Linked DNA regions of Homo sapiens. The protein of the gene in region 1 interacts with the protein of each later gene in a pairwise test. Each region holds a gene or a part of one and is shown in the gene's direction. Other genes may lie near its edges.

Evidence for each region.
Region 2: the proteins of NAV2 (region 1) and PSTPIP1 interact in a two-hybrid assay, tested with the Homo sapiens proteins (one large-scale study listed by BioGRID).

Annotation. Positions count from the first base shown.
Region 1 is NC_000011.10:20,114,560-20,118,377, forward strand, and holds part of NAV2 (neuron navigator 2), read left to right. Parts: intron 1-32; coding exon 33-236; intron 237-2,630; exon of another isoform or gene 2,631-3,213; intron 3,214-3,573; coding exon 3,574-3,699; 3' UTR 3,700-3,818. UniProt on the Homo sapiens protein: Possesses 3' to 5' helicase activity and exonuclease activity. Involved in neuronal development, specifically in the development of different sensory organs.
Region 2 is NC_000015.10:77,001,416-77,005,233, forward strand, and holds part of PSTPIP1 (proline-serine-threonine phosphatase-interacting protein 1), read left to right. Parts: intron 1-3,818. UniProt on the Homo sapiens protein: Involved in regulation of the actin cytoskeleton. May regulate WAS actin-bundling activity. Bridges the interaction between ABL1 and PTPN18 leading to ABL1 dephosphorylation.

The DNA of each region.
Region 1 (3,818 bases):
TTCCAGACTGTTCCTTCTTTGCCTGTTTTCAGCTCTATGGAAGGCGCGCCCCCTGGGAGGATCCTGCCAAGTGGGTGATGGACACATATCCATGGGCAGCCAGCCCACAACAGCACGAGTGGCCTCCCCTGCTGCAGTTACGGCCTGAGGATGTCGGCTTCGACGGCTACTCCATGCCTCGGGAGGGATCGACAAGCAAGCAGATGCCCCCCAGTGATGCTGAAGGTGACCCGCTGGTGAGTCCTCAGCCACCAGAGCAGCTCAGCATTCCTTTAGCACTTACTGTGTGTTGGGTATGATGCAGAGCCTCTGGAAATACAAAGGTGACTAAATCCAGCCTTGCTTTGGAAGGCTGGACCCAAATGACTGGGCCATTTTTGCCAATATTTTCTTCCATGGTTTTAGTTTTTCACTAAAAACTTCTCCTCTGAAATTTTTTTCTGGTATTAGATAACAGATTAAGAATTGATTTTTCCCCTTAAATGTTCTTATACCTACTGTCTCTATACAACACTTTGCCCTCTGATTTGGGATGCCACCTCTATTACCTACTATCCTATTACTTTGATCTCTCCTACCGATAGCAGAGCAGAGGAAGAGATTGCTAAGGACCAGAAGCCCAAGGCAAATGATAGGGTAAACAGGGAGAGGTCTGAGGGCAGGAGGGACTCACAGAGGGGAGGAGGCCTGAATATGAGTCCCATGGCCATTGAGATGAGCTAAGTCTTTCACACTGTTTAAGCTTCTTATTTATTCGGCTGTTGCTAAAACAATAAAGGCCCTTTAAGAAGCACCCAGGCTGGGGTGGCTCACACCTGTAATCCCAGCACTTTGAGAGGCCAAGGCGGGTGGATCGAGGTCAGGAGATCGAGACCATCCTGGCTAACATGGTGAAACACCGTCTCTACTAAAAATATAAAAATTTAGCTGGGCGTGGTGGCAGGCACCTGTAGTCCCAGCTACTCGGGAGGCTGAGGCAGGAGAATGGCGTGAACCCGGGAGGTGGAGCTTGCAGTGAGACGAGATCGCGCCACTGCACTCCAGCCTGGGCAACAGAGCAAGACTCCGTCTCAAAAAAAAAAAAAAAAAAAAAAAAGCACCCGGGCTGGGTGTGGTGGCTCATGCCTGTAGTCCCAGCACTTTTGGTGGGCAGTTACAGCCTGGGCAACGTAACAAAACCTCTTCTCTACAAAAAATACAAAAATTAACTGGGCATGGTGGCACATGCCTATAGTCCCAGCTACTCAGGAGGCTGAGGTGGGAGGAGGGCTTGAGCCTGGGAGGCAGAGTTTGCAGTGAGCCAAGATTGTGCCACTGCACTCCAGCCTGGTTGATAGAACCAAACCTTGTCTCAAACAAACAAAAGAAACACCCGGGCCAATAACAGTAGTATTTCTAATCGATTGTAGTACTCTACCAATATAAGACCCACACAGAGTCACACTGCTAAATTAGACCTAACAAATCAAAAGCCCAGTAAAATAAAAAGGAAGCAAATATACCAAAACCTCCCATGGTTAAAGGACTATTATCATGCCTTAAATTTAGCCCCAAGCTTTCTTGGCAGGCATAGCAAAAAGAAAACATAACAGAGAATATTATTTACATTACCTAATGAAAGAAAATATTATAAGAGATGTAGCAGGATTAAAAGACAACTGATTTACTGTTCTATTCCTAGCAGCTAATTAAGTCCCTAGATTAAAAAAATAATAATAATATTAATAGGCGATTCAGGTTGTCTGCCATCCTACTGTTTGGTGGGATGTAGCTGTGGTTCTGTTGAAGATTGCAGTGGGAACTGTATTTTTTAAGGATTTATTATTTGTGTTGCCATGTACAACCTAGTTTGCAATATTTATAACAGTAGTCTTACAAAGGAAAGAAGCATACTTTAAACAGCCGTTTGCAACGTTAACCATTGCTGAAAGCCAAAGTCACGGAGGTATTTTTTGCAGGGGCAAACTCATGAGGTCTTAACTTACATAGAAAATAGAATTTAGTATATTTAGAGGAAAGAATGGCCAGCCCATCCCTAAACAATCTTTTCTGAGCCAGTAACATTTGTATCACTGGTTGGACACAGAAGGTGTGTAGGTAAGACCCAGGATTCTTGGAAATGCAGAAACAGATTTCTCCTTCCAACCCCAGGCCCCCAGAAGTGAGCTGTGCCAGTCCAGCCACTTCCATTACCGAGTTAGATATTTGGTATTTCTCCTCAGTTCTGCTCTTTCTGCCCAGGGCCATATGTCTCTATTATCATAGCTCTCTTCTGTATTAATCCTTCTCACTCATGAGACTGAGACTTCCATGAAAACAGAATTTACTTGCTTTTGTTCCAGAACCATATACTGTGGACACACTGGGAGTGTTTAATGAGTGAATAAGTAATCCCAGTTGCCAAGGATTGTCCATTATACTTCAGCTCTGCCTCTTCCCTAGTTATGGCTGTGCAGATGGACACCAGATGATGGTGCTTCTGCAGCCTGGCGCATCTGGGTAGACTCTGCAAAGCATCCTGAGGGGCAGCTGGATTGTATGCCCAGCTGCACCACATCTTGGCCCTAGCTCAGAGAGGCCCCATATTCCTGACTTACTTCCTATATGAAATATAAAATACATACACACAATTTACAGTTATAAATAAAAGTAGTTTTTATTCCCTCTCCCACTCCCAAACAAGTGACCCGTAGTATGTAAACAAGGGCAGATTCAAGAACACTGTCGCTAAACTCTTTTAAGTTAGATGATGATGACAACAGATGACATTTATTAAGCGCTTACTATATGCCAGGCCAGCCCCTTTTCTAAGGGTTTAATACACATTATATCATTTTATTCCCTACTTCAACCCTATGAGAAGTGTTGCCATTCTCCCCATTCCACAGATGACGAACTGCTGGCTCAGATACCTTAGGTAACTTGCCCAGAGATTCCTGAATCATAAGCGAAGGCTCTTTGCACTCGGAGCCTTTGCTTGTAACTGGTGCTCCCCCTCACCTCCCTGCCAAGGCTTCCACAGGAGCTGCAGCACAGTTGGCTCCAGTCTGACCTGGCCAGAGCAAGGAGAAGAGATGGGTTTGATGCTTGTTGAAGTGGGAGGGGGTCCATGTGCTTCCGATGTCAGTGATGCTGATGCCAAGTTCCAGGAACAGGGATGCTCAGCCACACCTTCATCCAGGCCGAGGGCTAGGCCTGAAAGGTGTGCCCCTCCTAAATAAAAAATAAATAAGCTATGTATAGAGATCATCATTTTGTTTTCAGTGCTCTACGTATATTAACTCAATCCACCCATAACATTATAGGGCAGGTACTATTATTATTCACATTTGACCAGTAAAGAAACAAGTATAAAGAGGTTAAGTAATGTGTTCAAAGTCATGCAGCTAGTAATTGGTGAAGCTGGGATTTGAACCCTAGAAGCCTGGCCCAAAGTCCATGTTCTTGTCCACTGCCTCCACTGTGGGCTGTTATCCCAGGTGAGTCTGGAGGAGGTGGCATGACCTTTTAGGAGTCCAGGGTGGGCGGCCAACTAGACAGAAAGCAGCTCATGCTTCTCCACTCTTCCCCTAGATGAACATGCTGATGAGGCTGCAGGAGGCAGCCAACTACTCCAGCCCCCAGAGCTATGACAGCGACTCCAACAGCAACAGCCATCACGATGACATCTTGGACTCCTCTTTGGAGTCCACTCTGTGACAGGGGCCCGGAGCCCAGCGCCCTCCTCTTCTCCTCACCGCATTCCACCTGCATCCCCCACATCACCCTGAAGATGACTTCCTGAGCCAGCCCCCAGCCACAGCCTTAGAGCTGCGGGA
Region 2 (3,818 bases), on another chromosome or scaffold:
ATGGGGCCCTGCTGGAAACCAGAGCCTGCACTGACTTTGTGGAAGGCCTTGCAGCCCAGCAAACTGCTGTGGCTTTGAGGGCCAAGGAGGCCAGTGGCTGAGGAGTGGCCCTGGTGCACTCAGAGCTTGCAGACAGTGCAGGAGGTGGGAGAGAGAGGCCCTGGCCATCCTGCCTTTGCTGCCACCAAGTACCTTCCCGGCACCTGCCTGGCTGCATCTGTCAGAAGCAGTGAGGACGGAGGCTCTCCCTTTCCTGATTGGGAAAGCTCTTTAAGACCTGGTGTTCCCTGTAAAAAGCAGAGAGCCTGGCAGTGCACCTGGTCGGCAACCCGTTGTGAAAAGTGGGGAAATAAGCATTTATACTGGCGCAGGCTTGTAGTATTAACAACAAAAATCTGTGGACGGATGCACAGGGAGCTAATTAAAGTGGTTGCCTGTTGGGAGAATGAGAGAAAGGAGATGGATGAGGGATGAGGCTGAGCGGCTGTGAACGTTTTCAGGATTGATGTTTTTATACTGTTTGATTTTTGAACCATATGAATGTATTAATTATTCAAAAATTAAATCAAACAATTAAAAATGAAAAAGAGGACATTTATTTCAAGTCCCATGAAGAATTTTTCCCTGAATCCCAGCTACTTACATCATCCCCTGAGGAGCAGCAATGCTGCCATTTGCTGAGTGCCTGTTCCATGCCAGGCATGCTGCCATTCAGTCCACATGCCCCCAAACGCATTGTCAGTGTCTTCCTGACTCTGTGATGGGACCTAAGGCACGGCAGGTCTAGGCCCAGACGAGGGTCACCTGTGCAGGGTAGAGCAGGGACTCCCACCTAGGTCTGTCGAACTCTATTGCCCTCTGCCCTGAATTCTAGAGAGTTTGTTCTTGCTTCTACTTTAATTTGTGTAGGATGAAAGGATGCTTCCCTACATGTTAACACTGGTGTCTATGGATTTGGAAGTAGGATTCTCTCCATCCCCCATCTAATTTTCTGCAAGTCAATACAGAGTACCTTTGTCATTAAAAAGAAAATATTTAAAAAGAAAACTAAGCAATTCCTGCTTTCAAGAATGAGTTGGTGTTTCTAGGCCAAATTTGTGGTTTGCTAGCATGCCCTTTTCCACATGCTCGGTGCATATTTTGTGGTACGTGGGCCTCTGGGGACCAAGAACTTCGTTCATCTGTGCCCATTCCACAGGACGTGGCCGGCTGCTCAGGTGTTAGAAGATTGCAGAGGTTTGTGGTCATGCTTGCTTTGCTTTTGCGATGCCTGCAGATGGTCACTGCCAGGATTTGCTGGCTGCAGGGTTCTGGGTCGATTTGGTGTTCTGAATTCAATTTTATTCTTGATAAAAAACAAGATCTGCTTCTTGATGACCCACTTTGTGCTCCAGTCCCCTGGAACCCACATGCTTTTCCTGGCTGCTCCTGACATCTACACAGAACTAGGGCAGCCCCTGGGATGGAGAAGGAGGGCCTTGCTTTGGGCTTTGAAGGGTGGGTGAGGATTTGAGACATGTCAGGAGGACAAACGGCACTCAAGGTGGGAGGTACGGCATGGGCAAAGGTGTGGAAGGGGGTTTGGAAGACAGTTTTCTGGCCCAGAGCATTGTGCAAGGTGACTGGTAGGAAGGGAAGGCACGAGCTGGATTGTGAAAGGTCTCTGCCCTAAGTGGTGGCAGAGATACTTTCTTCTGCCTCTCTGCACCCTCTCTGGTGGTGGCTGTTTCCTCTCATGCAAAAGAGGACAGAGGCTGCGGGCTGTGAGTGGGATGCCCTTCCTCCTCACCCAGAGCCTGGCTGACGCTGCAAACCACATGATGGAGGGAACTTTGGGTGGAAACCAAGACTGCCTCTGCTTCCAGCTAGAGAGCATGATGCCCTGGGCCCTGGGCTGCCCACACCAGGACTCTCCTCTGGGTTGGCTCTGGAAGGTTCCTCCCTCACAGACTCAGTCATGCTCCATCCTCCAGGCTTAGAAGGAAATCGGCTTCTTGGGAGGCCGAGGCGGGTGGATCATCTGAGGTCAGGGGTTCGAGACCAGCCTGGCCACCATGGTGAAACCCTGTCTCTACTAAAACTACAAAAAAATTAGCGGGGCATGGTGGCGCATGCCTGTAATCCCAGCTACTCAGGAGGCTGAGGCAGGAGAATCGCTTGAACCCAGGAGGTGGAGGTTGCAGTGAGCTGAGGTTTCACAATTGCACTCCAGCCTGGGCAAAAGAACGAAACTCCGTCTCAAAAAAAAAAAAAGAAGAAGAAGGAAGCGGGCTTCTTTGAAGCCTCACCCAACCCTCACCCACACTTGCTAGGTGGCCTTGGAGAATCATTTTCCCTTTCTGAACCTCAGTTTCCTCATCTGCAGGATGTCAGGGTCGTCATCACTTAAGATAAGGGCTTTGAGGTTGGGGCGGCTCAGGGCAGTGCTAAGGGACCACCTCCTGCTCACCACAGTGGAGTAGCAGACCAGGAACAGTTCCCAGGGGACCCAGATTTATAATTGGATATGCACCCATAGGGTGAGCCTTATACATAGATCTTGCTGTTTCAGAATGCCTCCTCCAATCATGTTCACCATTGCATGTTATACTCCACCATTAGAGAATCATTCCTTTGGTTTCAAGTAACAAGATGATCTATGTTATCTCACTTAATTCCAACAATAGTCCTGTGAGGTCAGTATTCTTATTCCTGTTTTACAGAGAGGAAACTGAGCCTCTTGGAAGGAATGTGGGCCTGGGGGATGCCACACAGATGGATCGGACTGGGCTGGGCCTGGATGCCACCTTCCCAGGTCTGGGTCAGAGAGCCCTTTGCAGTTAATGGGAGGGTGTGTTGGTTTGCTGAGGCCTGGCACACTGAGCAATGGGTGATGGAACAGGCAGGAGAGCGACAGCTCCTTCCACTGGTGTTGACAGGCCACCCACCATTGGGCAACAGGAAGTGCCAGCTGGAGCCCTGGAGACCAGCAGCCAGTGTGGGGATGTGGTGGCCAGATGGAACTCAGGGCTTCCCAGCTGTGGAAACAGGAACGGGAAACAGCCACACTGGGGAGGAAGTCAGGGGGTGATGGGCTGAGGCAAGAGCATGCCTGCGTGGCTAGAGAGAGTGACCAAGGTGGAGAGTAGTTGGAGATAAGGTAAGAAATAGAACAGTGGCCAGGCGTGGTGGCTCACACCTGTAATCCCAGCACTTTGGGAGGCTGAGGTGGGAAGATCACTTGAACCCAGGAGTTCAAGACCAGTCTGGGCAACATGGTGAAACCACTTCTTAAAAAAAAAAAAAAGTACAAAAATTAGCTGTACCTGGTGGTGCACACCTGTAGTCTCAGCTACTTGGGAAGCTGGAGTGGAAGGGTCACTTGAGCCCAGGAGTTGGAAACTGTAGTGACTGTATGATCGCACCACTGCACTCCAGCCTGGGCAACAGAGCAAGACTGTCTCAAAACAAACAAACAAACAAACAAAAAAAACAAAGAAAGAAAAGAGAAGCAGAGAGCCAGATCTTGTAGGACTGTCATTCTAAAAAATCCCAATGCCCAGGCCACACCCCAGGTCAATTACACCCCGATTTCTGAGGGTAGGACCTGGACATCAGTATTTTTCAAAGTTCCCCAGTGCCTCCATGTGGAACTTTAGCTTGAGAGGCATCAACATAGATAATTGTGGTAATTAATTACCATTGCTGGCCAAGCATGGTGGCTCATGCCTATAATCCCAGCAGTTTGGGAGGCCAAGGTGGGCAGATCACCTGAGGTCGGGAGTTCAAGACCAGCCTGGCCAACATGGTGAAACCCTGTCTCTACTAAAAATACAAAA